Regions from separate parts of the Homo sapiens genome. Here all the other regions are linked to region 2. The links come from fine-mapping of genetic effects on gene expression. A gene starts in region 2. Each other region holds a variant in brackets. All regions are shown on one strand. Distances are from middle to middle.

Region 1 (10,793 bases), 35 kb before region 2:
CGCCTTACAGGGGAGGAAAGGCCATCGGGGGTGTGGGGCAGGAGCCGGGTGGTGGAGGAGCCAGGGGTGAGCCTTGAGTGGATGGTGGAGGCGGAGGGTCCCACCCACAGGGTCAGATGCAAGGGTCAGGGAATGACGATGCATTGGGGAAGCTCCACCCAGGAGTCATTTAAAAGCAAAAATCTGTTACCCAACATCCTGATTGCTCAAGGGCCTTTGGTTGGTACCCTCCTCTGTTACCTCCATGTAGTTCCATAAGCCACTCCTGTTATTTTGAGTTTCTTCTTCATAACCAGCCTAAAAATGAAAAAAAAAAAAAAAAAAAAAGAAAAGAAAAAAAGAAAAAAAAGCACTGTCAACTCCCTGGCGTGGTGTGAGAGGTTTTCCACCACTGACCTCCCAGCTGGCCCCCTAGCTCCCTAACTTGTAGCCCCGGGAGCCACAAGCCAGGCTTTCACCTTCCCTGTCCACAGGCTCCAGGTCTGTCTGCTCAGCTCTGAGCCATGGTCCCTGGCCCCTTGGAAACACCACAGACTAGAGCTTCAGCATCCTGAAGGCAGGTCTTTTTGACTTTTTGTTGTTTTTTTTTCCTCCAGTTCCTGGCACAGAGCAGGCACTCAAAAAAAAAAAAAAAAAAAAAAAAAAAAAAAAAAAAAGCTGTTGAATGACTGAAAGGCATTCCTTTGAAACCCTCAGCTTTCCCGACATAAAAGTCAACGCTAATTGGATCTTATTTTCTTCAAAAGATTTTACAGCAGCTGAATGTTTTCACACATTGGTAAAGGGTACTAACAGTGTGTATGAAGATCTCTCACTCTTTTTTCTGTTTGCAAATACGTTGCAGACAGGCACACGGCACTCCAGAGGACTGAGACAGCTGGAGGATCTTCCTAGAGGGTGAGAGACTAAGGCCATGCCCTGACAGATGTAATAGGACTTCCACAGGCGAAGAGATTGAGAAAGAAGGCCTTCCACGTGGGAGAAGTCCTGGGAGGAAACACAGACGCAGAATATGTCCAGCAGGCTCTGAAACCTGTGTGGTTAGAACAGAAGGTTCCTGGAAAATAGGAGTGGGTGAGGAGATCGACTGGGGAGCCTGGCTCACTCTATAGAATTTTGCAAACTGAAGAGGGATCCAAGAAGCATTTCAGAAAGCCAGATCTAGCAGGTTTGTGTACAAGGAGTTGGAAATGAGATAAACTGTTGGTGGAGAGGTCATTTTGGAGATGTTTTTCTTTTAGAATTCTTTCATATTTAAGAATAGACTGAATAACCCTGACAGTCCCCAGAAAGGATGAACAAAATGATTCAATTCAACCAACATTTGTTGAGCACTTAGTGTACACAAAGCAAGAGAAAACGTTAGATGCTTGTTAAAAGCAAATATTGGTGATTCTGGTTTTAAGCCACCCCCGAATTGAAGAAATCCAAACTAAACAGAACGCTAAGGAATTATTCCACTTCAAATGCCTGCCAATTTCCTCAAGATTCAGCTTGTGACAGATACAAATACATTCCAGGAAAGTACTTTCCCTTTTTCACTGCTGACTTTACAGACTTTAACATAAATAAGACAGGCAGCACTTTGTTTAGATAAATTTTTATGAAGGTATTAATCCATGGCTTACTATATATTTCACTGTCAATGAAAAATTCAACTCTATTTAATTTTCCTTAAAAAATGAAAGTTTAAAACAAATTACCAGATCTTTAATGCAACCCAAAAATCAACTTATGTTTTTGATGGCTTGAAACCTATTCCACATTCAATTGGATGTTCAGACTTTGCTCCAAAGTTGAAGAAAAGATTAAAAACTTCTGGGACAAATCAGAATAAAGCTCCTAGAACTTACTAGGATGTTTTTTGGTACAGTTCACATTCTAGGACACATTTCTGAAATCCTATCTTGTAAGATGGCTCTAGGTGTTTGAAATCTACATTTATATGTTAATTTCATGTCAGACTTCACCCCTATAAAACCTAATGCCTGCTTAGACTCAGCTGATTGCCACGAGGCTCTCAGATTCCATTATATCCGATACTTCAAAGAAACATTTCCTCGGTGCATCTGCTTCGTATTTTCTAGCATTTTCATTCATTCATTCATTTGACATACATTTGTTGAACATCAGTTCTGAAAAGCTACAGGACCCGTGAGGCTTTGGGGACGCAATAGCGTGTGTGTGTGTGTGTGTGTTTGTGCATGTGCACGCATATGTGTGTGTGGCCAGGAGGAGGAAGGGGAAGCAAGTAGAACAGTAAAATCCAGAGATCCAGTCACTGGGAGAAGATTGAGTTAGGGAAGGCCCCTTGGACTACGATGAGACTTTTGAGTTGGGCCTGGAGGGATCGGTTAAAGTGTGTCAGGCAGTCTGATCCCTGACCAAGGAATTGTTCATGCAAAGGCCTGAAGTAGTAAAGGACATGGTTCATTCTGGCACTGTCAAAAGCTCATGTGGAACCAGGCCCCGTGGCTCAGGCCTGTAATCCCAACACTTTGGGAGGCTGAGGCAGGTGGATCACTTGAGGCCAGGAGTTTGAGACCAGCCTGGCCAACATGGTGAAAACCCATCTCTACTAAAACTACAAAAATAAGCTGGGCATGGTGGTGCATGCCTGTAATCCCAGCTACTCGGGAGGCTGAGGCATGAGAATCACTTGAACCTGGGAAGCGGAAGTTGCAGTGAGCCGAGATCACGCCACTGCACTCCAATCTGCAGGACAGAGACTCTGTCTCTACAAAAAAAAAAGAAAGAAAAAGAAAAGCTCCTGTGCCAGATATAAAGTGCGCATAAAATATATACTGACCTTGCAGGTTGTACTTGACCTTGCAAGTAACTGGAGACCAGTGGAAGTGCCTCAGGCAGGCCTGAAGTGGAAGCAAGGAAGGGCTCCTTCCTGCTTCAGAATGACCTGCTCGTGAGCCCAGAGGAAGCAGAGGCAGGCTCAGCTCCAAGGACCTCCCTGAGCAGCTGGCTGAGAAGTGAGCCCACAACCAGTGAAAACTGTGACAGCTGCACGACCGCCTTGAATGCTGCCCTGCGTTGTGGATGTTTGTGCTGTCCCTTGCTGCAACCTGAGTGCCTGCACAGCAGGGAGGGCCTCCGTTGCCTTTTGCAACTGGCACCAGACATGCCACCTAGATTTGCACTAAATGTTCCCTGAAGGGAGGAAAGAGAACTCGTTGCCATGAAAACACATTTCTCTAGAAACTTTTTTGAAAAGTTCATTAACTTTTGGAAAAGATGAAAAACTAGTATAATGAACACTTGTATACCCTTCACCTAGATTCATACATATATATACAGATACACACACACACACACCACACACACACCACACACACATACACGCACACACCACACACACATACACACACACCACACACACACACACCACACACACCACACACACACATACACATATATACGCACATACACACATGTATACACACACAGACACACACATACACACAAACACACACATAGACACACACACACATAGACACACACACACACATATATACACACATACAGGCACACCTCGGAGATATTCTGGGTTCAGTTCCAGACCGCCACAGTAAAGTGAGGTATGCCTCTATATACACAAACATGCGTATATGTGTATGTGTGTGTATGTATATATGTATATGTATATGTGTATATGTATATGTATGTATGTACACATATTTTTCCCTGTACCATTTAAAGTAAGTTGTATACACCCCTACCTCATTGTGTATCTCTTAAGAACAAGGACACCAGCCGGGCGTGGTGGCTCACGCCTGTAATCCCAGCACTTTGGGAGGCCAAGACGGGCAGATCTCCTGAGGTCAGGAGTTCAAGACCAGCCTGGCCAACATGGCAAAAACCCGTCTCTACTAAAAACACAAAAATCAGCCAGGCGTGGTGGCATGCACCTGTAATCCCAGCTACTCGGGAGGCTGAGACAGAAGAATCGCTTGAACCTGGGAGGCGCAGGTTGCAGTGAGCCGAGATTGCGCCATTGCACTCCAGCCTGGGCAACAGGAGTGAAACTCCATCTCAGAAAAAAAAAAAAAAAAAAAAAAGGAATTAAACTACCATCAGAGTGAACAGGCAACCTACAAAATGGGAGAAAATTTTCGCAACCTACTCATCCGACAAAGGGCTAATATCCAGAATCTACAATGAACTCAAACAAATTTACAAGAAAAAAACAAACAACCCCATCAAAAAGTGGGTGAAGGACATGAACAGACACTTCTCAAAAGAAGACATTTATGCAGCCAAAAAACGCATGAAAAAATGCTCATCATCACTGGCCATCAGAGAAATGCAAATCAAAACCACAATGAGATACCATCTCACACCAGTTAGAATGGCAATCATTAAAAAGTCAGGAAACAACAGGTGCTGGAGAGGATGTGGAGAAATAGGAACACTTTTACACTGTTGGTGGGACTGTAAACTAGTTCAACCATTGTGGAAGTCAGTGTGGCGATTCCTCAGGGATCTGGAACTGGAAATACCATTTGACCCAGCCATCCCATTACTGGGTATATACCCAAAGGACTATAAATCATGCTGCTATAAAGACACATGCACACGTATGTTTATGGCGCCATTATTCACAATAGCAAAGACTTGGAACCAACCCAAATGTCCAACAATGATAGACTGGATTAAGAAAATGTGGCACATATACACCATGGAATACTATGCAGCCATAAAAAATGATGAGTTCATGTCCTTTGTAGGGACATGGATGAAATTGGAAATCATCATTCTCAGTAAACTATCGCAAGAACAAAAAACCAAACACCGCATATTCTCACTCATAGGTGGGAATTGAACAATGAGATCACACGGACACAGGAAGGGGAATATCACACTCTGGGGACGGTTGTGGGGTGGCGGGAGGGGGGAGGGATAGCATTGGGAGATATACCTAATGCTAGATGACGAGTTAGTGGGTGCAGCGCACCAGCATGGCACATGTATACATATGTAACTAACCTGCACAATGTGCGCATGTACCCTAAAACTTAAAGTATAAAAAAAAAAAAAAAGAACAAGGACACCAGCCAACATAATCATGATCATATGCTGATCATACCCATGAAATTTAACATTGAAACAATACTATTATCCAGTATACAGTCTGCAATGAAACTTTAATCGTCCCCTTGTCCTTCATGGCTTTTTCTTTTTAAATCCAGAATCCAAATAAGGCATTGCGTTTGGCTGTGAAGCCTCTCTGGCCTCCTTTAATCCAGAACAGTCCTTACCCTTGTCTTTCATGCACTGGTATATCCTACAGAAGCTCTCACCATCTGGATTCGTCTGTTTTCTTAGATTTGGGTTGAACGTTTTTGGCAAAAATACGGGTTATGGTTCCCATCGAACCTCATCAGGAGGCACATAAACTAAGTGTCCCCCATCATTGGGCAAGTGGGGTCTGCCAGATCTCTTCATGGTAAAAGTGCATTTCCCCCTTTTATAATTAATTGAATTATAATTTCCTCTTTAGAATCCATGGAGTGACACTTTGAGACTAAGAACCGTCTGGGTCTCAACCATCTATTCCTGAATGTCTTTGGTATCCAGTGATGATTTCTGCCTGAATCAAGTATTGGTTGAGTGACTTTCCAGCTCTATCCTCCCTTCTACACTTACTACCTGGTGTTCTTCAGCAAAGACCTCCCCCTCCCCAGGGCTGGCAGCATGATTTGTGGAGTCCAGTGCAAAACGAAAACGC[A/G]GCGCCTCTCTTTCAAAAAGCAATTTCAAGATGGCAACAGCTGAGCACTAAACTAGGCACAGGGCCCATGTGGCTATGGTGGCTGCACATCCTTGAAGCCAGCCCTGCCACAGCCCATACGTGTGTGCATCTCATCAAACGTCACTGCTCCCAAGTGTCCCCACTTAGGCCAATGAGAGCTGCATCAGGCAGGCTCCTTTTTGATGTGTTCTTATCCATTTTCAAGGACTTTGTCCTTCCTGGAACAGTAAGATGATCACAGGCTCACTTTGTTCCTTCCTTGACCCAAATCCAGAGTCAGCCATTTCTCCGAGAAACCCTAGCTCCATTCAGTGAGGGGAATGGTTGGTTAGAGCCAACAGCTTCAGAGTTAGAGACCAAGCTCTTGTGCTGGGCATGCTCCCTGCCACTTGGGCGTCATTGCTCCTGGTCCTCTTGGATCTGTTAAGATCAGGTTTTCTTTAACATCATGAGTTGATACTGATTCCTCCCATTCAAATCCACGTGACAGGGCTTTTCCTCACCTGCCCATCTTCCATAATCGCATCTCCCTCTGCCACAGTGAGGACCCTGGTTCCCAGCCCCTCCTAGGGTTTCTCACTCTGTTTCCCACAACACTCACCAATAGCCTCCGCTCCCGACAACAAACCCACAACACAGAGTTCAAGATGTTTTAACTTTTTGTTCCTAAGAGTATATTCCAGGGATATATTCCACATATACTTGATTTTTGTGCAGCTTACTGATTTGATGTACATTTAGGTTCATAAATCTGTGCTTCACAGAAAGGTTTGCCATTTTCCTTTTTTCTACATTTTCTTTTTTGACGACGTATAACATTTTGTATCATTCAAGTCACACCTATAAAAAGGAAATGTTCAAAGATCTCCCCATCCTGCCCTTCCCCCCTTTTCTCAGTCATCCTTCATAGGTAGCATTTTTTACCCCCACAGGTAACCTTTTTTTACCCCCATAGGTAACCATTTGTATTAGCTTTTATCTTTCATGATTCTATTTGAAAAAAATAAGATTATTCATGGATCTTAAACAAAAGGTAGCATACTACATGCCATCTTTTGCACTTTGCTTGACAAGCACATTTGGTAGCCTCATCTGCATGTACTGTGTCTATACTTTCTGGGATCAGTGGGATGAGAGAATGTGTTAATAAAAATGTACCAGCAGAATCATTTATTAACAACAAAAAACGTCTCTTCTAGCATCAGTTTTTAGGACCTCTCGATAAAATGAGGGGGCTGGGGCCAGGCATGGTGGCTCACGCCTGTAATCCCAGCACTTTGGGAGGCTGAAGCGGGCAGATCACCTGAGGTCGGAAGTTCAAAACCAGCCTGACCAACACAGAGAAACCCTGTCTCTACTACAAATACGAAAAGCCAGGCATGGTGGCACATGCCTGTAGTCCCAGCTACTTGGGAGGTTGGGGCAGGAGAATCGCTTGAACCTGGGGGACGGAGGTTGCAGTGAGCCGAGATCATGCCATTGCACTCCAGCCTGGACGACAGAGCAAGACTCCATCTCAAAAAGAAAGAAAGAAAAAAAAAATGAGCGGGCTGAACTAGTTGCTCTCCGAGGTCCCTTGCCATTCTAGCAGCCTAAATTATCCTCCCAGGAAGGGCACAGTGTAATACAGCAATAACCTTCATGTCTCAGGAACTAAACTCTATTTACTTCTGAACACCAGCAAAATTATTTTTGTAGTTGCAAAAGTTTTCAAGGACATGTTGAAGACCTGGAGCCTTTGGATAGGGAGGCTGCGAGAAGGAAAAGAGAAATAATTAACAGACCAAATGGGGTTCCGCATTCCTTTAAGCAAACTCAGTACAAGAAAATGGAGACTTATAGAAAAGCAAAATTAGGAGCTAAATGTTTATTTTGATCAAGGAATCTTTTGTTAGGAAAACCTTCACTTATAGGATCCTTTTAAATAGTATGTTTCTCTAGAGCATTGAAAATGATTCAATCTTCAAAAACCTGAGTCACCTTTTTTCCAGAAACACCCTTGTGTTTATTATACATCTATCTGTAGTATCTGAATGTAGATCTTTTAAAAAGTAAAAAGAATTGACCTGGCGTGGTGGCTCACGCCTGTAATCCCAGCACTTTGGGAGGCCGAGGCTGGTGGATCACCTGAGGTCAGGAGTTCAAAATTAGCCTGACCAACATGGTGAAACTCCATCTCTACTAAAAATACAAAAATTAGCCGGGCGTGTATTTTTAGTAGGGATGGGGTTTCACCATGTTGGGAAGGCTGGTCTCGAACTCCTGACCTCAGGTGATCTGCCCATCTCAGCCTCCCAAAGTGCTGGGATTACAGGTGTGAGCCATTGCACCCAGCCGAAGTCTTTTTCTTTCTTTTCTTTTTTTTTTTTTTTTTTTTTTTGGAGACGGAGTCTGGCTCTGTCGCCCAGGCTGGAGTGCAGTGTTGCAATCTCCACCTCCCTGGTTCACGCCATTCTCCTGCCTCAGCCTCCTTAGTAGCTGGGACTACAGGCGCCCGCCACCATGCCTGGCTAATTTTTTGTATTTTTAGTAGAGACAGGGTTTCACCACGTTAGCCAGGATGGTCTCGATCTCCTGACCTCGTGATCCGCCTGCCTCTGCCTCCCAAAGTGCTGGGATTACAGGCATGAGCCACTGTGCCCGGCCGAAGTCTTTTTCTTAATGCACTATGAATACACAGTAAATACACACTATAAAGTACTATTTTTAAAACAGGATTTATTTGTTACATTATAAACTCAGCAGCACACAAAACCAAGTAGTGAATACATCTTTTTCCCCCCTTTTAAATGAGAGGCAACTTTTCATCTCCCAGTGCTCTTGGGGCCACAGAAAAGGGGGCCAGGTAGATGGAAGGACTCAGCACTCTGGGGTGGGGGGTGCTTCGGGGATCTAAGTGGAAGAGGTGATAGGGCCGGCGGTCAGCTCAGGGACTCCCCCAGTTGGGGTCCAGGGTCTGCTGGTGTATCTGTACCACTGCTGGGACTTTGGTAGTTCAGTGTTGTGCACATACAAAATGTATGCCTCTGTGAGGCACACGATGTAAGTGCTGAAGTTCTGTGCAAATTTATTAGCACGAACTGAAGGTACTGTCATTGTTTAACTCATCCGACCTTTTAAATGGATAACCAACCTTGAGGCTTAATTGGATTTAAAAAAAAAAAATCAATTTCTAGCCATTGCATAGTGTTAAAATGAAGTGCTGCATTCTCAGGCAATTGTAAAATCAGTTTTGCTCAGGACTATTTTTTATTATTTACCACTTTAAAATGACATTATCCATCTTGATAAGCATTTTATGTACACACATACCTTTCATAAACAACCACAAACGTACACGTACGTACACTGACTCACGTCACAAAAGAATCATTATTTTCTGTTGAGCAGCAGGCTGATTCATCAGCAGCAATCTCTTCACACCAATTACACAAAAAACTGAGCTGGGGATAATGACATACCACTGCTTGCAAATCTCTCAGCCTCAGCCAGTCTCATCTTTGTAATAAGAAAAAAATCCTTGAGGAAGCTTTTTACCAAATCGCATCTTGACCATTAAATCTTTCTTGAAGAAGGTCATTTAATTTTATGGAAAGAAATGAAAAATTAAAATGGCATAAGCAGAAATAGTCCTGATCTGGAAATCAGAAAACTGACGATTCTAGTTCTAGTCCTGTGGCCTTGGCAAGAGGGAAACTTGGGTCTCAGTTTCCCCCTCTGGAAAAGGGGGATGTTGGGATGGGGGGCGTTGTTCTCATTCCCCCACCGTTGATGAAAATGGAGGTCTATTATGGTGTTGTGCGTCAGAACACCAAGTTAAAACACGGACACACACACACACACACACACACAGAGACACACAAAACATTTGATCCTTCAGCACTTCCTCTGAGAAAAAGAGACCAAATGATGCATACGAGGGTCTTCTGCCTCCATTACAACATGTAATCATTTGGATGATTAGCTAAAAGCAATTATAGAATTATAGTTGACAAATTGAAAACGCTAAGCCCAGTGGTCTCTTGCAACTGAGCCTCATTTAAATGTGCATTGTGTTGAATGGAGCCTCATTTAAATGGTCCATCTTAGCCAGGTTACGGAACTGAAGTGGAGAACCACACAGTTACCCCGAGCATTCAGGACAATCCACAGAGCTAATTTGGACAATTGGACAAATGATTATTTTCTTTTGCCTCAACTGACCAGATAATTGTACACAAGTCTCTGCCATTTGACTCCATGGAATGTCTCTTTGTGTAGTAAGAAAGCCTGGCCATAGACTGGTACCATGACGTCTGCCCGAGGGTGGCATGGAGTTGGGGACAAGACACACGCAGCTGACACCCACCATCTAACTCCGAGTCCTAAATCAGAAGCACTTTCATACGTGCTAAAAGTCTCTGCTTGCACCCAGGGTTCTCATTAGTTCCTTCTAATACCCATCACTTGGGAGGAGGTTGTTTTCAAAACAGAATTAAAACCATCAGGCAGCAAGGTTAGAAGTGGCATCTGGGTGGTCAAGAAAATTAGTGTTTTTTTTTTTTTTGAGACGGAGTCTTGCTCTGTTGCCCAGGCTGGAGTGCAGTGGTGCAATCTTGGCTCACTGCAAGCTCCGCCTCCAGGGTTCACGCCATTCTCCTGCCTCAGCCTCCCGAGCAGCTGGGACTACAGGTGCCTGCCATAACGGCCTGCTAATTTTTTGTATTTTTAGTAGAGATGGGATTTCACCGCATTAGCCAGGATGGCTTGATCTCCTGACCTCGTGATCTGCCTGCCTCGGCCTCCCAAAGTGCTGGGATTACAGGTGTGAGCCACCACGCCCGGCTTTTTTTTTTTTTTAGACGGAGTCTCGCTCTGTTGCCCAGGCTAGAGTGCAGTGGCACAATCTCGGCTTACTGCAACCTCTGCCTCCTGGGTTCAAGCAATTCTCCTGCCTCAGCCTCCCTGGTAGCTGGGTTTACAGGCGTGTGCCACCACACCCAGCTAATTTTTATATTTTAGTAGAGACGGGGTTTCACTATGTTGGCCAGGC
Region 2 (10,793 bases):
AAATAAAAGTTTGCTTCACTTTTATCCAACAAAGTACCCTTATTCTCAAAGTAAGCCTCACTGCTCCCATGGAATCTTTAAAAGCAGAAAAGCAAGTAGATCTAAAGAGAAATATATAATGATTTCATACTTGGATTCTAAAGACAGAGAACTAATTTTCCAACAGACTCAGCTTGTACTAAAACTTAGAATCTTCAATCTGCAAGTTAAAATTGACTATGTAAGGTTCATAAAGTGAGATAAAGAAAGATGCTAGCCTATTGCAAGAAAAAAAATTGTTTTAAAACAATAGGTCCTTCCATTTTCCAGGATCTGCAGCACAAGTTCTGAAAATGCAGCCAACACCAGAGTGGCCCAGGAGGTGAGCACGGGGCTCTGAAGCCAGATTTGCCAGAGTTCCAATCACAGCCCCCAGCCATCAGGTGGGTGACACTGGGCCAGTTTCCTACCTCCTCTAAAATCTGTTTCCTTATCTGTATCTGAGAAAAACAATAGTACTTATTTGATAGAGCACTGTGAAGATGAGCTGAGCTTACACACGGAAAGGGCTTAGCCCAGAGCCAGGCACAAAGTAAACTCTCCATAAATCTTAGCTAATATTGTAGTCAAGCCTGAATAAGGACCTCAGGTTTCTTATAACCATAGTTAATCCTTAATTTCCTTTTTCCTAAAGCACACATTTTATTAAAAATAATGTGCTTATGTTTCAAACTAATCTAAGACCAATTAACGCTAGCTTCCAATTATAGATTATGCATTATTTTAAAGCAGAGTATAGATTAGGCAGTAAACACTAACAAAGTAGCTCCAACCCCTATATTAGATCCATTCCCGGAGATCGAAGGAAACCACACAAATCCATACAGAATTTCATCAGATCAGAAGAGCATCTCAATATCTACCTTTCATTCATTTCTTTATGACTTTACAATTTGTTTTGAATAATTGTTTAGCTTCATAAATCCATTTCAGTTTCCTAAAGCCAAGCTGCTTGAATGAGTTGCTACCTTAAAACCTGCACTTGGCTGGCATAATAATGTGAAAGTTACTTTTGCACAGTACTGGGGCTACTTCTAAGGATTTCTGTCAGTAACCTTGGACTGACAGCTACAACACTGTTGACTATGAATTTCTCCTTTTCAAATTAAAGCTAAAGTCAGGAGAAACAATGTATTAAAACAGAACTTGAGAAAATACTGTTGAATCGATAGGGCTGCTGGAAATCACCTAACCCAAACCCCTCAGTTTACAAATGAGGCAAAAAATGTCCGAAAAGATTAAAGGCTTGCCTAAGGACACACTCTGAGCCTGCAGCAGAACAGGACTTAGGCCTCAATTCTCAGATTCAATTCTCAGTGCTCTTTCCTTTATTTCATGCTGCCCTGAGGCATGAACGTGATGGGGCACTCAAAACTGAGGCCAAAGTAAAATGCATGGGAAATACGACTGTATTTTGTTAGGAGTGCATAAAGTCAAACCTGTCTGTTTTTTTACAATTAGTTTTACTAACTTTAATACAACTAAGAACACAAAAAAGTAGAATTTTGCTCAGTTCTGGATGCTGAAATCTAAAAAGGATACAGAAAAACTAAACATCATTTATAGGAAAAAAGCATAACCACTCTGAGCCGGGAATGCTAGGCCTGGAAAGAATTCTGGGTAACAAGGCTGCAGGGTTACCAGACAGAAGGAAGACCCGAAGGAACAGAACTAAAAGCAGGACCCCAGGACACAAATAGTTGGGATTAACAGGCAAAGACTTTTTAGTGGTAAAAATCATGGAGCTGCTGGCATTTTCCATCATTGTCATACACCATGGCCAAATAAGATAGGCATGAGGGGTTATCACAAATGGGGACATTAGGCCAAATGACCTTTAGGTTCCTTCTGGCCCTTGAGGCTTTGTGTTTATCTGGTCACTGCGTATCCTCCTTAAATTCCTGTTTATTTGACATATTTGCCTGAATGCTGCAAAACCCTGTATGCACGCACAGGGACACACAATAACCCCACTACAACAACCAAATTCTAGTTTTTTCCCTCAAACTAGGATGCAAAAAATGCATGTTTAAATTTTTTGAATGGCATGGCTTTAGGTGTGCTTTGCTTTGAGGTGTATGATACACACTACTCTGCAATTAATTTCTGCAGCTTTTTCCTGAAATAAGATGTCAAAATTCAGGATTACAATTTTTTTTTTAAAAAGTCTGTTATTTTAGGTGTATTTTTAGTTGGTATCAAATGCATCAAGATCAAAGTCTACAGCTTTTTCTTCTAATTGGAAACTTAAAATTCCAGGTTATTATTTTTTAAATTAAGTTAAACTTAGGTTTAATTTCTTCCTTTCAAATTGCCTGAGTGTTAGACATGTATTTACAAATTGCCTCTTTTTAACTGTTTTACTTTACTATAACAAATATACTTACTTTAAGTTTCTATTTAAAAATTTTCAAACATGCAGAAAAGCCTACAAAATGGTAAAATGTCGCACACATACTCATCACTAGACTTAACAATGAGTAACAATTTGCCTTATTTGCTTCCTCTATTTTTGGAGGGGTTTAAGGACTTAGGTAAGATGCCTTGACATTTCACCACTAAACATTTCAGTAGGCATCTCTAATAAAATTAGCAAATGTAATGTATTATAATTAATTCCTTAATGTCACCTAATACCTAGTCCATATTCAAAATTTGACAGATACGATTTTGTTTGGTTTGCTACATGGCTTTGAAATTTACAAGTCAGAAACAAGGCTTTAAATTTTTTGTGAGCTAGATATGCAGTGAAAAGCATTGCTAAGAGTTACTCAATAGATTTTACAAATTGTGTTAAACATGGCTTTTGCTTCAAAATGTTTATAAAGCTTTTCCAACTTCCAGAAAAGTTGAAAAAATCATAACCTCTATTTAGTCTTGTTAGCATTTCGCCGTACTGTGTGCAGAATAGATTTTGTTACGAATCACCTGTAAGCAAAGTGAAGATGTAACACTTCAACCCTAAATACTTCAGAAATTTATGACATGCCATTTTTTAACACAATTAAAATATATAAATCTGTGTTTTATTTTTAAATTTGAATTCAGGCAAACTATGTTTGTTAGACTGCAAAACCTATTTTTGAGATAGTATGGATTGACTATAAGGATATTTTAAATGATATGACTGCTTTCAATGATCTGAGAAAGATTTTAAATGGTCAGACTAATATAAATATTAACATTTTCAATGGTATGACATTTAGAAAACATTTTTTAACGTTCTTAGAAATGTATTTTTAGTTGGGTTTAGAAATCTATTTTCAAAAAACTGTGAGTTAGCTAAATGTATCTGTATATACCCTGACATATCTATTTTTCCAAACTGTATACGTTAACTATCCATTTTTAATTATTCTGCTTAGCTTAAATATTTTTTAAAATTGCCTAACTTAGAAAATAATTTTCTAAAGTGGTCTGATTCAGAGATGCACTTTTAAAAAGCTTCCCGTCTCAGATACTAGGTTTTTAAACTGTCTGACTTAATCGGGAAAAAAAAAAAAACCCTCATGTTACCCAAAGGTTCAGGGTATTTTGAACCTTAATGATTAAAAATTGAAAAATAAACAATATGTTTTTCAATTAAAACTGATACCTTAGAAATCTTAATATGAGTTTCAGTAGTTTTTGAGGCAGCACAAAATCAAGTCATTTAAGGAACATGCAGTTCTTATTTAACATTACTGAAGTTCCATTAAGGAATTGAATTCATCCAATTTCTACTCGATTTCTTGGATTATTTCTTCTTCAAAATTAGCGCTAGAATTAGCCTGTTTCTATGCTACCAGACATCTTTACATTTATTTCAATATAATGTAATTCCTTTCCGTTTATAAATGTAAAAAAAACCCTTCAACTTCTTAATTAACTGAAATCTCACACACACTCTGTCCCTAGTTCTAGGCTGTTTGACCTGAGTTTACATGCTTTTATTCCTGAAACCGCTCACACGGCTTAAAATGACTTTTCTATCAGTTATATGGCCAAAGACATTCTCCACCTGTGACTTACAAAAAGGAGAAACTGTCTTTGTAGACATGATAATCATGACATATGGCAAAATTTTCCTGAAGCATTTAGATAAAGCCATAAAGAAAAAAATAAACTGGCAATACAGTCCCTAAGAGGTGAAATGAATGTTCCAAAATTGCCTAATATCAAGTATAACCCCCAAGAATGTGGTCCTGGGATGGCTATTTCCCGCCTGTTCCAACGCTGCTTCTATTCCAACCTAGTCTGCCTACAGCAGGTAGCCTGAACTACAGCCAGTTTCATAACTTCACTTTTCAATTGAAGACATTACAGAGCTAACGATCACTGTCTGGTATAGATCATCCAGACTCGCCCCTTATTTAACAGAGCAGTAAACTGAGGCTCAGAAAGGGAAAAGTAGCCCCCATTAAAAACAAACCCCAAACAGTAATTTTTCCAGGACCACCCTTAAAAAACGCTACTGCTAGGCTAACTAAAGGTTGTGGTTAATTAAAAAAAAAAAGTGCTATTTTACGGGGTTAATTTTCACATATACCTCCTCAGGCTTTTTTTAAAAAGTTCGAATGGAGAGGAAAGCTTAATTTCCTGTCTGGGAAATGGAAAGTGAAGAGGCTAGCACCTTGAGTCTCACAAACGCAAGCCCCCAGGAAGAACAGTGAGGCAATTATTCACAGGGAACAAGGCCACACAGAGGGCTGCGGGGCCGTTAAAAGAAAACGGGCGGAAAAACAAAACAAAACAAAACAACAACACAACTCCCTCCTCTTTGAGGGGAGGGAGTCGTTCATTTTGCAAGGATTTGGGTCTACGATCCGGCGACCCAGCCCTTAGGACCAAACTGAGGCTCATTACTGGGGGGAGGGGAGCTTCAAACAAAACGAAACAAAAAGGCTTCAGAAAGGCCCAATGCTTCCCAATGTTAGCGTTAAAACATATGTAAATTACAGGCGGCCTGTAGCGCAGTGACGCCAAGGCGGGGGGTGCGGGGGGGGGGGTGCTGCGGAAGTGAGGAGAAGACCGGGCAGAGGTGGAGCTGCGGCCTCACAGCACCGCTTCTTCCTCATCCAGGGCTACAGATGCCCCCTGACTCTAGCCAAGAGATCTTATTATTCTTAGTCTTATTATTCTTATCTTCTCTTTTTAAACAGAGAGACAGACAGAGACAGACAAACAGGCAGAGCCGCAGTGCACACGGTCCGTGTGTCGGAGAGGCCGCCAGGAGACTCACCGCAGCAATGCTACGTGAATGCAGAGGGCTGGAGGTGATGTGACTACTCACTTGCTCGGCTAACAGCTGCCGGTTTTGGATGGAATTATTCCGCAACAACAAGAAAGCGTCGGTTAAACGCCTGGTGGCCATGTCTCACCCTTTGCGACCCCCCTCTCAGGGGCCCCCCGCCCACTTATATTCCTGATTTATTCACTTTCTTTCTCGTGGCCCGGCTGGCCCACCCTTTCACGGAAGCTTCTCGACAAGGCCTCAGGCCTCAAGCCAAAAAGATGCAGCTGTGCGCTTCGCCAAGGCGTAGAGACCCCTCCCCAAATAACTACCTAGGCTTTCCAATTGTCTGACTCCCCCTACCCAGGGCAGACTTCGATCTCTAAGCACTTGAATCCCCCCAATCCTTGCGTAGCGATCCAACGTCCCAGAGACCCCACCCCAATCCAACCTTGGATCTACAAGCGTCTAACTCGCCAATCCGGCTCTAGACTGGGAGGCCCTGAAGCCCCCTACTCCCTGAGACCCCCCGGAGGTCTCTGCTCTCTACCCCTAACTTTGGCTCGTAAGCGTCTAGGCCGTGCCCTGAGGTCTGGCTGTGACTCAGTTTCCGCACCAGAGGCCTGGCCTAGGCCCTCTTTGGACAACCGGAGCCAGGCTTGGGGCCTGGACTCGAGGGCGCCTGCAGCTCCCTTCTGGGGACTTGTCTGAACCTGCTGAGGCCCTGCCCGACCTCCTGACCCCTTCCTTTCCTGGACGGCCTGGTCCTCCACTGCCAGCAGGCTGCCGGCCTGCAGGAAGACAGCAGGGCCTGCCTCCCCGGCCTTCTCACTCCTCTTCTCCGGCTCCCTCCATCCCCGGATCTGACTGCAGCTCAGCCCCGGACCGTTTCCGTGCTGTGGTCCCGGGTTCTGGCGTTCCCCCCTGGCCCTCTTCCTGTCCGTCCCTCGCGAGTGCCCCCCTGCGACGCTCGCAAGCCTTGCTCGCAACGTTCCGGGCGCGGGAGCTCCCTGCACTCCTGCCCCGGGGCACGGGAGTGCTCCGCCCTCTCCCGGGGTGCTCCTCGGGCGCCCTGTTTCGCCTCCCCCAACTGGGTCCAGGCACTAGGAGCAGGCCAACGAGCAGGCCTGAGCCTGGGGAGCGTGGCCCCCAGGCTGCAAACCGCTGCCAGGGCCCTTGGTCGCTGAATTAGAGTGGAAGTTGCGCGGCAGGCAAATTTGGGCTCCCCAAGAACTGAAGTTTTGGGCGCGGGGAGTTGGAGCGGGAGAGGAAAAGTTGGAGACGACTGCCTCTGCAGGCCGAGCACGCTCTACTGCAGGCGGCGGCGCTCGCTTTTTTTTTTTTTTTTCCCACTCTGGAAAAAGATGTATCCGACAAACAACCACGAGGAAATAAAAGGAAAAAAAAAAAAAAAAAAGGAACAAGAACTCCAGGCAGCCTGGCCGCGCCGCCGCTGGCAGTCGGGGGTCGTCGGGGGCGCCCGCCCTCCCCAGCTGCCGCTTTCTGTAGGGGGCACTGCAGGGTCGTGGAATCTCAAGTGGAAAAGTTCCCCGAAAACTTTGACACCTCCCACCCCCCTCCCCGCGAAAAAAATCTCTGTTCCCTGCCTGGGCCCTGGCCCTGCGACCCCCGCGCCCCCCCGTGCCCCGGGCCGGGTTTTCCACGGTTGGCCGGGCCCAGGGCGCCCTAAGCACCTCGACTTGCCGCCCCGGGCCAGGTCGGCGGGGTTCGTGCAGGGGCTCCGTGGGGCCGCGTCGGGCAGGGGCCGCCCGGGCCCGAGCACGGCACCCACAAACAGGCTGGCGTCCCGCGACGGAGACCCGGGTCCGGCCCGGAGCCGCCCGGGAGGCTTGAGGCCAAGGGCCTGGCCCAGCGCGCGGCCGGAGCGGGTCGGGGGCGCAGAGCTGTGCGGCGGCGCCTTCCGGGCCCCGGGCCTGTGCAGGGCCGGCTTCCCCTTGCGGGGCGAGGCTGCGGGCCGGGCTGCGGTGCGGGGTTCCAACAAAGGACCGAGGCCCCAGAAGCGGCCCCCACGCGTCCTTTGTTTCTGCGTGGAACAAACTTTACACACGTGTGTGTTTTCCGAGGGTTTCCCGTGTGCTGAGCGCTTGCAAAGCGGAGTCGCGCCCGGGGAGACGCGAAGCCGGTGCCCGCGGCTCACCCAGGGACCCCAGCCAGACAGCGGCACCCGCGGGGCGCGTGCGGGACCCCCAGGCGACCGGGGGAAGCACCGGTAACCGCCCCCCACCCGTGCTTTTTCTCTCACGGAGAATGTTCCCGCGCGTTCGTTGTGCAACTAAAAATTAATGTGAAACATCCATTGAGGCAAATAACAAAATGCATCCAACGAAACCCACATAAAATCGAGAGAGCCGCGAGCAGGGCTGGGCGAGTTCACTGTGAGGACCGGCTCTGGCTTCCGCGCAGCGCGGAGAGCAGGGCGCTCGCCCGGGGACGCTTCGCAGCGGTGGAAGATTCGGGCGACAGGGGACTGGGTCGCCGCGCGGGCCGGGCTGGAGGCTGCAGGGACTTGCTGACAGGCCATCCAAAGACAGAGAGGCCCTGGGGAGGGAAATTCGGGGAGCCCGTGTGCTTAGCGTAGCGCCCCGGGAAATATTTGCCCAATAAGGGAGAGTTTGTCCCCACACTGCGGCAGAACCCCCCTGCGAGCTCTGACCCCAGCAGCACGGCCAAGCCCCCCCAACCCCGCTCCCCCCTTTAGGGGACAGGTATTTGTAAATAACAACTGAGCTGGTCGTCGGTAGGAGAATCAGATTAGAAACATGGTCCCCACTCTCTTCCTATCTCCCCAGCACTCATCACCTCACAAAGCAGGGGGGGACCTGTTTACTTTTCCTGGCGCTCTCCCCCAGGCTAGAACGTGATCTTCTTCCTACGCAGGGACAGTGTTTTATTCATCTTTGTACCCACTGCCATCTCATCTGGCTTGGAACAGGCTCCGGATAAATATTTTTTAAATATGTGCATGAATTAATGAGAGACTCGAGATTTAGTCCCCAAACTCTCTGACCTCCCTCGAGTGACTTTAAGCCTTTAGAGCCCTTATCTGTTAAGAAAAAAAGAAAAAAATGTGGGTTTTTCGTAATCCTCGTAATCCGCGCCCTGTCTACTTCTCTGGGGTTATTGTGAAGATCAAATAAGGTAAGTGAAAACTCTTTGTAAACTACCAGGTGCTGAGCAAATATTATATAGGATGGTTATTCATTCATTCCCTCCGTTCAGGAAGCTTAGCAAAGTAATTCCTGGTCTTGTGTTTCAGCAGATGGTGGTCGCCTTTCCTGGTCAGTCTTAAATATTTATTACAGGACAATCTCATTCTTACATTTAGGAGATCAATCAAGCTTCCATTTCTTTGAGCGAAATGAACACTGCTTGCACACAAATAATGGAAGAAAAATCCTGGTATTCCCAAAACAGCCACCCCAAGCAACCCAAGAGCCTAACAGCGGGGAGGTCAGGAAAATCCAAGAAGTTGGCATAGCAGCCCAAAGGCAGCACCGTGCAGCTCTGACCAGGCCCCAAAGGCAGCACCGTGCAGCTCTGACCAGGCCCCAAAGGCAGCACGGTGCAGCTCTGACCAGGCCCCAAAGGCAGCACCGTGCAGCTCTGACCAGGCCCCAAAGGCAGCACCGTGCAGCTCTGACCAGGCCCCAAAGGCAGCACCGTGCAGCTCTGACCAGGCCCCAAAGGCAGCACCGTGCAGCTCTGACCAGGCCCCAAAGGCAGCACCGTGCAGCTCTGACCAGGCCCCAAAGGCAGCACCGTGCAGCTCTGACCAGGCCCCAAAGGCAGCACGGTGCAGCTCTAAGCAGGCTGTGTTTAGGTATGGGATTGTGTGCCTGAAATAGTGTTAACCAAGAGGGAGCCCAGAGAGGGCATGCACCCCTGGCTCCAGTCACGTCCATGGTCCATGTTCGCCCTGACCCACACTGGAAGGGAGTTGGGGAAGGATGTAAATCATTATATTTGAATGTTCCTTGGCTGTTTTATTTTCCTGTCAAGTGACTTAAGCTTGATTTTTTTTTTTTTTTAAAGCATTCCCCCATGGCCAAGTATGTGTTTCCTTGGAATTGAAATCTAGGTTGATGGTTTTACATTTTAAAAGCTTTCATTGTGACTCATTCTTGGCCTGGGCTAGGATTCGGTAATACTCCTCGGGCTTGGTGAGGCTCCGTGTCCTGTTTCTTGGGCTTCATACCCACTTTCTAACATTCTGCCAACGAATCCAATAAGTCACTTTTGGGGACAAGTGTTTCATTGTTTTCTTGTCATCTCATTCAGTGCAGGAGGAAGCCCCATTGAAGCCAGGCCATGGCTTGGGCAGGTGCAGGTTTTCAAGTACTGAGAGGGGATGGTTAGCTCAACAGGTCAGCAGTGGGACACACACCCTTTGGTGAAAACAATTTAAATGAGATAGGGCTCATGTAAGCCCTTATACAACCTCAGCATAGAGTAAGTGCGCCACAAATGGGCAATATGATTTATTACAGCAGTAGTCTTACTGTTGGAAAGCTCACGTGGGCTCTGCTCTCCCTGGAAGGCATCATAAACTCCAAAGAGAATGGCATGGTATTGAGAACTGAACACTTGGAAATCTAAGCACGTTTCCGAGCTTCTTGTTCTGGACCTTGGGAATCCAGATGTGTCTGCAGTGCACACTCATGTGGAAGAGGGGGCTAAACCATCTCAAAGACACCTTTTAACATTGGTCTTTCTCCCACCTATAGAAAGACAGATGGTTGTTTGCTTATCAAGCAGCAAAAGCCCCCAGGCCTAACATATGTCTCGTCTGCACAGATCTGACAGACAGATTCGGGCCAGGTTCGGGTAACAGGAGTTGTGTGTTCTGTGTCCCCAAATAGTTCCTCAAAACCTTGAGTATTTCCAACAACAGAAAACTCCCTATCTGGGTCTGTCTTCAGCTATGATGCCTCTCCCAAGAAGGGAGACTCTGGAGAGAGGCAACACTTTTGTTTTGTCTGGAGTCCCGTAGCTTTTAATACCAGACAATTCAATACAGTAGGCATTTCTAAAAATCTACCAGTGGCTGTGCCTATCTCTTGCCAGGCACTGCTGAAAGAATGAAACAGCAAAACTCTTGCCTTCAGGGAATTTGCATCTCCACTGTCTCTACCCAAATTCTGGTTCTCATCGTGTACATTTTCCCAGCAGCCTGCTAACAACCACCCGTCTCTTCCCTCCTCATCCTGCAGCCACAGTGACCTTTCCAAAGCATAAATCTGATCATGTCACTGCCTGATTGAGGCCCTGAAACAGCTCCCTCTGGCCCATGCCAGCCGATCTCAAATGACGCTCAGCAGAAAACAGGTGCTCTAAGTTGAACCAAGCTGGGCATCACTAATATTAACTAATGATGGACTTTTCTTGGTTGTCAGAAAAAAAAAAATGAAGCTAATTAATGGAGTAGTCTCCATCTTAAGTGTTTCTCTTCTCGCTTTCTCTTAAACCTTCAGTCCCTGCCACCACTTGGCTGTATTAGAATATAGTATAAGACTAGATCTGA
Region 3 (10,793 bases), 25 kb after region 2:
CTGGCTTCTGGCCGCATCACTCCCATCGCTGCTTTGTCCTCACATGGCCCTCTTCCCTATGTGTCTTCTGTCCTCCTCTGTTCTCAGAAGGACACCATCATTGCATTTAGGGCCTACCCTAAAACCAGGATGATTGCGCCTCAAGATCCTTTACTAATGACATCGGCAAAGAACTTATTTCCAAATAAGCTCACTCTGAGGTTCCAGTGGACATGGAATTTGGAGGGACTCCCAGGGTCATCAGGGCGTTGGCTGGCTATGGGCAGATGTCCCTGGGTACCCAGGACTTCCCGCAGGCCCAGAGGACCCCAGAAGAGAGGCCAGCATGGGCAGCCAGACTGCTGCTGTTCAAGTCCTCCTGGTGGTCCTCACGCCTCCAGCCCTGCTCCTCCTTGGCATGGAGCTCCTTCTCAGTGGGGTCTACTTGCGCCCCCTCACTTTCCGGAATAGCTTTAGAGAGGCCACACATTGCATTTCTTTTCTTTTGGGGCCCGGTGAAGATAAGGTCACCTTGGATTCTATCGTCTCCATCACCATCATCAATTTTCGCTTTGTATTTTGCTGTGTATGTGTGTTTTAAAAATTTGTTTTGTTTCTTAAAGTCTCACTAGGGCCAGAGAGTGTCTTTAGGGCCTTGTAACATTTGCTGCAGGCTGACAGAGGATCCATTGTCCACGGGGCTGGGGTCTTCTGGGGAGATGTAGGTCTCCTTTCTCCTGGGGCCTGGGGCTGGTCTCAGCTGCCCTCAAACCAGGCTTTGCTGGGAAGTGGGCTGCAGAGTGGACTCAAAGAGAGTCATAAACCCCAGGCGGGAATGCAGCATGGGTCAGAATGCTTGGGTTAGAATGGAACAATTGACAGCCTGGGAGATCAGCCTTCTCCTCTCATTCCAGGCCTGACTGTCACAGGCCTCAGATGCAGGGACTGTGAGGAGCTCAGCCTGGAGGGTACGCAAGACCAGGCCTCCTTTTCTTCCTGTTAGGGTCAGTGAGCAGGGACAAGTAAACCAAGGCTCTGCCCTCATGGAGCCCCCCATCCATGAGGCCAAAAACATGCTAACAGGAAGCCCTGATACAGGGTGAGGAGGACTGGGGACAAGGGGAGTGGAGGGAGTGGAGAGACCCTGAGCTGGGGTCCAGGGGGCCAGGAGGAAGGCTTCAGAAGGTCCTGGCTTTTCTTGCTCTCCTTTGCCCTGCCCACCCCCACCTCCCTGGTCCAATCCAGGTCATCTGGGCCACTGTGAAGGCCCCCCACTGGACTTCTGGGTTCCCTCCTGTACCCCTAAACATTCTCCACACAGGAACCAGAGGGAGCTTTTATAAAGAAGGTGGAGGCTGATGTGGATGAAGTTATATCAGATCGTCTGACTTGACGTGACCACAGCAAAGTTTCCATCTCTGTATCTCCCTAAATCCACCCAGCTCTCCGACCTCAACCTTCTGTACTGTCTCACCTTATTCCTTAGCCAGTGAGAGGAGTAGCTGGGACACGAGTGAGTTCCAGCCATGATGGGTACGGTTTGCTCTGAGCTCCCCCAGCCCAGCCCACTCCCCTTTGGAGAGCTCCTTCTCTTCTGGCATTTCTCTGACTACTTTGGGGGAGAGGTTGACAAGGATCTCCACCTACAAATCCTCTATTCTGTGAATACGGTATTTGTATTTGTATTCACACACCGCTCTGGAGACCAAACCAACCAACTTCACCTAGACTCGAAGGATCCTTGACACCGACCAAGGGCCTTTGAAGAAAAGACTTCTCACTGAGGGGATACGTGTCTCCCTTCAGTAGGAAACAGAGCTAGAGTTTCCAGCTTGATTCCAGATGGCTTTGGGGAAATTCACAGGTACCATTTTCAAGTGGCTTCAGCAGCACCAGGCACAGTGTCCCACACATGGAGGGTGCTCACTAGCTATTCTTGTATACCAGATAATAATATGAATAACAAGGTAAACACTAGTGGCTCTTTCTTGGGCCCTTGTGAGGTGCCAGTGTCTGTGCTAAGCATTTTGCATGCTAAACACTTTACCTGTAAAGGCAGGACACAGTCCTACCCTCTGACGGTGATGACCAGACGTGTACGGACCATGGGCACAGGAGACGGACATGGGTGGACATTTGCACAGCCCTCTGGAAGCTCACATCGAGTTAGAAAGACAAGATATTGAAAACTGCACTGCTGATAAGGGTTAAACAGCCGTTTGATACAACAATAGAAGAGATACTCAAGGCAGGGCATGACTAATTGCCTGGCAAATCATAGGGATGATAAATGTTTTAGGAACTCAGAGGAGGAAGCCGTTTCTCCAAGCAGGGCAGAACAGACAGACACCAGGGGGGTCACTGTGCCCTTTCAAAGGGGGCCCATAAGGCTGCTCTCTGAGGAGGTCATTGTCACACAGTGGGGGTTGGAAGGGTGCCCTTTGACCGTTTTTTCTTTTTAAGGACTAGGTCAGTATTCAGTCACCCACTTGCCACAGTCTACCCACACTGGAGTCTTCAGGAAACCAGCTAGTTCAGGGAATTGGAGGAAGAGCGAGAGCATGCTCTTTATTTCCTTTCCCACTGTTTCAACCTCTCCAGGACAAGCCTTCCATCTGCAATCTCCCCTCTAGAAAGTGGCACTGGAATTTGGTGTTCACATCATGTGAGAAAAGGCTGAAGACACTGGCTTGGAGTCCCAAAAGCATCTGGGCCATCTCTCCCTTGGCAGATAGATAGGTCCCACATAATTTTACAAAAACATATCATTTTCATGGTGGTGGTAAGACTGATACGTGTTTGGATTTTGCCCGAAATTTCAAGAGGCTAGAGCTGAGAAGTTCCTTTGAAGCTCTCAGAGCCCTGAATTGTGTTCTGTTTGGGTATCTATTAAGAAAACAGCCATTTCATCACGGCTCGTAAAAATTGGTTCATGGATGCCCAAGGCTTTATCTCATTAAATCCTGTCGCTATCTGTAAATGGTGTTCAGGCTGTTTCTCTGTGAGCAAGGTTATCTGACTGTTTAGAAACTCCAACCCTGGATGGTGAGATGCTGCTATCTGCAGATTTGGGAGAGATGACTGGCATTTCCCAAAATGCAAACAATCTCAAAAAGCTCATAGGCCTGGAAGTGCGGCAATGGGGCAGGGGGCAGCTGCTGCCCAGCCCAGTGGGGGCTGCTCTGGGCTCTGGCTGTCCCCAGCAGTGAGAAAGCAGGTGGCTGATGATAAATCACAGGGCTGTCATCTGCAGAGGCTGGCTGGTGACATCACAGCTGGGAAGGGGGCTTCTGGAGCCAGAAGAGGCCCACAGAGAAGTGTGTTGGTGGCTGAATTAGACATAATGGCTCTACACACACTGTGTCTCTCTTTTCCTCTTTCCCCCTCAAATCTGACTCGAATTTCTCATGAACAAACCAACATCTGCAAAAGCACATCCTTGTCGCCAGGGTTAAGAGCAAGTAAGTGATCCTGGAGCCCCTCCCCGCGCTGTGATGCAGTATTAGAAAGTGGCCACCATGGAATCCTGGCCAGTGCAGTGCTAGGGGGCAGTCAAGGGCCAGGCTTTGGGGTCAGAATTCGGGTCAAGTCCGGCCTATACCACTGGACTTCGGACGAGTTACTCAGCCTCTTTGTCTCAGTTTCTCCACAAGTAAAGTGGGCTTGAGATGAGGACAAAGTCAAACAGTGCATCCCAGGGTCTGGACAGGAGCAGCCATGAGTGGGGTGGTGTCTGCAGGATGAGACCCTCACACTCTGGGAGGCTTCAGCCTTGCTGGGACAGCAGGTACTCTTCGACTGAATCCCCTCTAATTTTTGTCCAAACCATCTAAAGATTTGGGCCATGGTGTTCTTTCCCACAGCCCTCCCAAGGACAGGCAGAGGACAGCTGCTAGAGAAGGGAGTGGCATGGGTCAGCTTGCCTAGAAGTCAGAGGGATGCAGGGGGCAGAGATGGGGAAGGCTGAAGTGCCTATGGGCTTCCTTGGTCTGGCCAGGACCTTGGCTTGGCCCCTGAAAATGGCCCAGCAAGAATTTCCAGGCTGGACACGATGGCAAAGCTGAGAGGTAGCAAGAGCCTGGTGTTTACCGCATAGCCAGGAGCAGCAGTGGGAGGCAAGCGGGGGAGGGGAATGGGGTTGGGGAGTCTGTTGTTCTTTTAAATTAAAAATAAGTTCCACATGTTGATGGTCCCCGAGGAACACGGACTCGGCATTGAAGGCCCTGGCAGCCATGTGAAAGCAGGCCCTTGGGAGGACAGGTCTTAGGGAGAACAAGGCACCAAGTATTTCATCAGTTGTCTGAGTCGTTAGAGGAAAACAATATTCCGTGAGTCCCCTGGCACACAACGCCATCAGGACATGAGGCTGGAAGGAAGTAAGAAGAGAGCCTTCCAGAAACCCTAGACAGGATGCTCCTCAGTGATGAGGTTGGGGAGAGAGAGAGAAGTTCCTAGAAACAGGAGCAATAGTGGCTGCTCCACAGCCCCCAAGGCCCTTTGCCCCACTGGCCACCAGTAATGAGACTGGACCTGGTCTCCACAGACACTTTCAGAGGCTGCCCACCCCTTCTCCCCTCCTGCCAGGATAGAGCCCAAACCCCTCATCTGGCCCCCAAAGCCCTTCAATAGGGAAGCAAAAACCACAGTGAGAGGAGCATGGTTCCAGAGCTGACATGCCCAGTAGGACGCCGGCTCCAGGGGCTGCTGGGTGGCCGCTTTCCCTTCAGGGGATCCACTTCTTCAGCCATGTGGGCATCATGGTGGTGAATCCTTCCCATTGAGTCCTTGTCATGAGCACTGAGTGGCAGGACACCCACGGCTTGTAGAATGCTGCCTGGCACATATAAGTCATATAAGTGCTCATTAGCACACAGTAAGTGCTCATTAGCAAAAGCTTCTAGGATTAGCTTTCTAGGCTTTTCTGCACGCCCAGCGATGTCGCATGCACAGGTTGCCTCTGTTGGCAAGTTCATAAAGATATCACAAACCACAT[T/C]CTGAGGATACGCCAGGCAGGGGACAAACACACAACAAACGTCATCTTATGCCATTCCTTTGCAAGGTAGGTCCCCTTTCACTTGCCAGAAAACAGGGTCCAGAAGTGGAAGCGGCTTGAGCAAGGCCACATGGCCAGAAAGCTGTGAAACCAAGATCTGAACCCAAGACTAAATCTTCTTATCCACTTCCCTTTTTCACCTCCTCCTCAAATGACTTTCTCTGCCCCGTCACCACTGCCATACCCATGAGCACCTCCCCCACTCAATTGTCCTGGCCCACTCCAAGGCCAACCCCACCTGGAGCCATCTTGGTTCACTCAACTGGAACTGGGTGTCATTCTTCAGCTCCTCCACTGGCTTTGCCCTCCTCCATCTTGCACTACAGTCTCCTGGAGCTGTGTCTGGCTTCCTTCCAAGAAAAGGACCCCCTGGCAGGTAGCTGGCACCCAACCCATAGTGTTTAGTGGAATTAGGAATCACATGAGTCTCATGGTCTCAGAGGGCCGCACTCTGCTGTTGTCCATGGGTGCCACAGACTCTTCCAGAAGAGCCACTTCCACAGATGCAACAGGCCTTTTGAAGGAGCCCAGTTCTCAGCATGAGCCAGGATGGTCAAGGTGAGAAACCTATGAGCCCACACTTCTCATTTCCTTAGAATTTCTTGGACTCTGTGAAGAGGAAGGAAAGGAAGAAAAAGAGAGGCAAGGAGGAGAAGAAAGAACAAAAGAAAGAGAAAGAAGATGAGGGAGAGCAGACACAAGGGCAAAGACACAGCAGGAGGGAGTGAGAACAAGAGAGTCAAGAGGAAAAGACACAGCGAGAGAGACAAAGCAGCCTCCGACTGCGGACGCGCCAGCAGCTCATGCACCCCCAAGAAACCCGGACCTAACACCAAGCTTCGGTCAGCCTTGAGCTGGGAGCCTGGGGGGCTCTGGCTTGGCTACAGAGGAGAAAATCACCCCAAGTTCTCAGTCAAGGGGGGTACCAAGCCAAGGGGAGCGTGCATGGCAGGGAGGCTCAAGCCAACGTGTGGCCTCCTCACGCAGCACTGCAAGGACGCATGGAGCATTGATTCCCAGCATGGCATTCCCAATCAGAAATAGCCAATACCCAAACCTCTTAAAGCTCCTGCCTCTAATAGCAGCATTTCTTCCACTGTCATCAGTGGTAACACACTGATCTATAAAAGGTTTTAAAAGTGCTACAAATAGCTCCTCCAGTCCCCTGAAGTCAAGCTTATTGGGGGAAATGGCTGACTTGATTGCTCCCTGCACAGTGGCATCTGGATGTGATGAACAGAGTGAGCTCATCTCAGGACTTTTAGGGCAGCCTGGGTACTTCCGGAGTTGGGTGGAGAGCCCCCTGGGCTAGCGGCTGCCTGGCCACTGTCCCTCTGCCCTTCACTTCCTTCCTCTCTGGGGTGGGACAAGGGCGAGGCAAGCAAGGTATCATATTTAAGGTGGCACTCACTCACAAGGGGTGCTGGCACAGGGTTGGACTCTGAAGGTGAGCGCCCCCTTAAATTAGTACCCTGGGCATCTCACTTGAGTGGGAGAGAAGGAACACAGGGCTCTGCCCACATGGCCTCACTTTCCTCATCCATAAAATGGGATCACCTATCCCCATCTTGGCAGCTATTTATTGACCTCGTACATTGCACCAGATACTGTTCCAGGTGCTGGGTTTCCAGAGACAGGAAGTACATCTGCACTCAGAGCTCACAGTCCGGTGGAGCAGGCAGAGGGAGGGAGGGACCCCAGCCAAGCACCACTGTGTTGCATGTGAACTCCAGTTTAATAGGTCCAATGACTGCCAGGTGGCCAGGGATACAGGCTGGTGCCAACATCTGTAAAGCATGTGGGAAGGGTGGGGAAACCGTGTCCCAGCAGTGATAGAAAAATGCAGGGACACCGGCTGAGGGGAAGCCAGTGAGGCCGGGCTGCAGAGGGGGAGGGCAGGGCAGGTCACGCCACCCAGGAAGGTGGGCCTGCCTTGGGTCACACTGAGACGTGCAACTTAGGGGCCCTCTCCGCTGTCACCCTTAAGGCTCACAGCCACTAGGCCACTTCCCAAACAATCTGTGATCTGGACAATTCTGAGCTGTGTCTCATCCAAACCTACCTCTCCCGTGTCACTGGGTGCCTAGTCTCTTGCTAAGTGTTGGCAACACATTTTTACCTACACTAAAGAGTCATTATGCTGCTACTATTTCTTCTAGAAAACATAGGTCCATTTTCAACAGGGCAGGCTTTCTGCCTGCTCTCTCGTCTCCAAAGGAGGCCCCTAATGATGGAGATGTAAGTCTGGTCTGGGCTCAGCCAAGAGCAGAGGACTCACGTTTACCATGCTCTTCCCAGCTCCCTGGCCCTCAAGGATGTTTCCAAACTTGCTCTTCTTTTCCGAGCCGGCCTCCATCCTGCTGGTGGGCACGTTAACACCAGCTGACAGATAACAGGCATGCACGTGGAATCACACCTTCCTGCTTTCTGAGGATGGACAAGAGTCTGGGGCTGGTGCTCCATGACATCTTCCTCTAGAAGCTTCTGGGCCGCATCTAGAAGAACAACCCATCAGGAGGAGAGAATCAAGATCCACCCTCCCGATCACAGCCTACAGGTTCATCTCTGCAAGCGCACCTCTCACCGCCTCCCCCTGCTCTCCAGCCCTGCCGACCTCCCTAGAATATGGAAGCACGTTCCTGCCCCAGGGCCTCGGCTCGGGCTGCTCCCTCTGCTCAGATGCCCTCTTTCAGCAGCTCTCCCAGTTGCTCTTTCTTGCACCATTGCACCTACTTTTCTGCCTTGCTGTTCACACGAGCCTTCACTCAGCATGCATCTGCTGAGTGCTTACTGTATGCAAGCCCTGTACTCAACACAGAGACGCAGCAAGATCAGCATGGCTCTGACCATATGGGGTTTGATTCAGTACACAAATAAGCGTGGATGGTCATTCCAGGCAGTCCTAGTAGCTCTGAAAACACATGAAGCACGGCCCCTTGATGTCGGCTCTGCTTCTTCTTATTTGTCTGTTTCTGTTTGCTGTCTGCCCTCCCCCTGGACCGTCAGCTTCATGAGGTCGGGGGTTGGTGCTGCCATTTTCTCTCTAGAAGCTTCTGGACCATGCCCAGAAGAGCAACCCATTGTGGAGGGTGGCTGCCCCTGGTGGGGATGGGGGCAACTTTTCCCATGAAGAGCCTCCCAGAGTCTCAGGCCTCAAGCAAGGCCAGAGAGGCCCCACTGCCCGCATCTGGGGGACACCCCAGAGACATGGACTGGAAATGGTTCGAGCCTGGCCCACAGCCCACGGAGCTTCTGAGAAGAGCAGTGCTGGGAGCACATCTGTCTGCCCTCGGACCCCCGGGTTCCAGCTGGGCACAGCGTCCACTGGCTCTTCAATCCCTTTCCCATCGTCCTCAAGGAGAGGAGAGTTTAATTCCACAACGGCCCGAAGCATAGGTGTGGGTGACTCAGAGCGGGCGGATGAGAACAGGAGGCCAGCAGGGATTCCGGCTGAGTGCGGCCCCCGCAGCCTCCGGCTCAGCCAGTGACTCACTCCAGACACTGCGTGAGTCAGCGGCTCTGCGGCTCTGGCCAGCTCTGACGCCCTCCGCACACTAATGAGACCCCAGCAGGACAGAGTACATGGAGGATGGGGCGCTCAGGCAGAGGGCACGGGAGGGCACACACCCCCCAAATGCACACACGTGTGTGCACACAGTTCACACAATCACACGCTATCACACACACTCGTACACAGGTGCACACACACACTTTCCAGTGCACACATGCATGTGCACACAGTATACACACACATCACACGCTATCACACACACTCGTACACACATGTGCACACACACCCTCCAATGTACATACTCATGCGCATGGTTCACACACACTTCACACACACTATCACACTCACTTGTACACAGGTGCACACACACACCCTCCAATGCACACACTCATGCACACAGTTCACACACACTTCACACACTATCCCACGCACTGGTACATACACACATGCACACACACCCTCCAATACACACACACGTGCACACAGTATACACACATCACACACTATCTCACACACTCATACACATGTGCACACACCCCCTCCAATGCACACGCATTACACACAGTTCACACACACTTACACCCACCCATATACACACATCACACACACTCATACACACATTCACATCCACATTCACAAACACACCCTTGAATGCACACACTCATATGCACAGGGTTCACACCCACCTCCATGCACCCTCATACACACTCATGTTCACATCCACATTCACACACATGTGCATACACACCCACATCTACATCCACACTTACTATACACACATTCTCATATGCCTACACAGCCCCCTCCCTCTTTCCTTCCTTCCATCATCATTCCTTCCTTCCTTCTTTTCTTCTCTCCCTCTCCCCATGCCTTCCTCCTTTCCTTCCTGGTTAAGCACATGGGTTTTGGGACCAAGGTCATCCTACCCCAGCCCTGCCAACCAGCGATGTGACCACGGACGTGCGGCTGTGCAGCTCTGTCTGCCTTGACTCCTCATCTGTGAGACGTGGAGACTGTGAATGCCCCTTCCTAGGATGAGCCTCCATGTGAAGTGCTGATCGCAGCTGGACACACCACAGCACACAGCGTTGGCTCTGGCCCCTGTGGTCAGGATCAGTCACTGAGCTGTGCTTCCGACAACCGTCTGCTGGATGCACAGTCTGAGCTGCTCAGTCTGAGCTGCACAATCCTCCTCTTTGTAGACCCAGAGGCTGGGAGTAGAGACCACAGGTACACAGATGAGTTACACTCCAGACAACAAGTGAGCCACCGAGCTGGCACCAAGTGGGGTGGGCGTGGGAGGCACAGAAGGCTTGGGTTTGGGGGAAGAAAACCATAGGGGTAATGTGGAGGAAGGGTTGACAATGATAAACAACCGTTCAGCTTTCTCGTTACTGCTGCCAACAGTTCAGGGAGGGTGGTCAGCAGGGATCTGAGAGCTGGGGAGTGGCCTTCAGCCAGAGGTGACCAGCACTGAGCAGGAAGAACCACTCAGAGGTTTTTTGTTAACCTCCGGGTGGAGGAGAAGGGTGTCTTCTTGTACTGACAATGCTCTTTTGGTTGTCAAGAGCAGAAATCCACTTCAGTGTGGCCCCAGGAAAAACTGGGACTTTACTGGCTCATGAAAGTGCATATCTGTGGTGATAGGGTGGATTTCAGGCATGGCGAGACCCAGGAACATCAGAGCTGCCACCAGGAATCTAGGTCTTTCTCTACTCTGAGCTCTGGTTTCCTCCACATTGGCTTCATTCCTAGGCAGGCTCCCCCTGTATGGGGGATCATGATGGGTCCCGACTTGCAGCCACCCCAGTCGGCCTTCCCACAGAAAAAGCTTGTTTCCCTACAGTCCTTCCCAAAGCCATGATCGCATCTTCTTAACTCACCGGCTCATGTGCCCATCTCTAAGTCAGCCCTAGTGGCCAGAGGATAGAATGCTCTAATCAGCTCTGGGTCATGAGCTTCACGCAGACATCATGGGTTGAAAGCTGGGGAAGGGTGGTCCCTAAAGAAAAACCAGCGCACTGCCACCGGAAGAAGGGGATGCAGGGCTGTTGGAACAACAGAGTCCATCTTCTTTAGTAGCAGGGCCTGGGAGGCCTGCTCTCTAAAAGACAGAGAGATGGTGACTGGTGGACTGGGGGAAGATGGGCTGAACTTGTGAGTGGAGAGCAATGGGGAGATGGGGACAGGCTACGTCCCCATTTAGAGACTAGATTTCATCTGGACAGATTTCAAGATGTGGGTATGAAG

Evidence for each region. PIP is the estimated chance that this variant, and not a neighbour inherited with it, causes the effect.
Region 1: its variant is fine-mapped to the expression of STX16 in whole blood (TOPMed, PIP 0.91).
Region 3: its variant is fine-mapped to the expression of STX16 in whole blood (INTERVAL, PIP 0.97).

Annotation. Positions count from the first base shown.
Region 1 is chr20:58,681,228-58,692,020 of GRCh38, reverse strand. STX16-NPEPL1 (STX16-NPEPL1 readthrough (NMD candidate)) reads right to left here. Exons shown (of 23, transcript NR_037945.1): 9 at 794-987; 10 at 459-616; 11 at 241-297. It also overlaps a transcript of NPEPL1 not described here. Among named protein-coding and RNA genes, the nearest start is that of NPEPL1, 6.2 kb to the left of the region's middle. The variant A/G (reference allele first, on the strand shown) is at 5,741.
Region 2 is chr20:58,646,606-58,657,398 of GRCh38, reverse strand. It overlaps STX16 (syntaxin 16), which reads right to left and starts at 6,116. Exons shown (of 9, transcript NM_001001433.3): 1 at 5,261-6,116. The coding sequence starts at 5,392. It overlaps STX16-NPEPL1 (STX16-NPEPL1 readthrough (NMD candidate)), which reads right to left and starts at 6,146. Exons shown (of 23, transcript NR_037945.1): 1 at 5,261-6,146. It overlaps LOC107985410 (a long non-coding RNA gene), which reads left to right and starts at 7,764. Exons shown (of 3, transcript XR_005647058.2): 1 at 7,764-8,410. RefSeq lists enhancers at 4,747-5,250, 5,088-5,357, 8,387-8,924 and silencers at 6,854-7,213, 9,612-9,906.
Region 3 is chr20:58,621,771-58,632,563 of GRCh38, reverse strand. No RefSeq gene overlaps it. Among named protein-coding and RNA genes, the nearest start is that of LINC01711, 7.6 kb to the left of the region's middle. RefSeq lists an enhancer at 8,357-8,651. The variant T/C (reference allele first, on the strand shown) is at 4,973.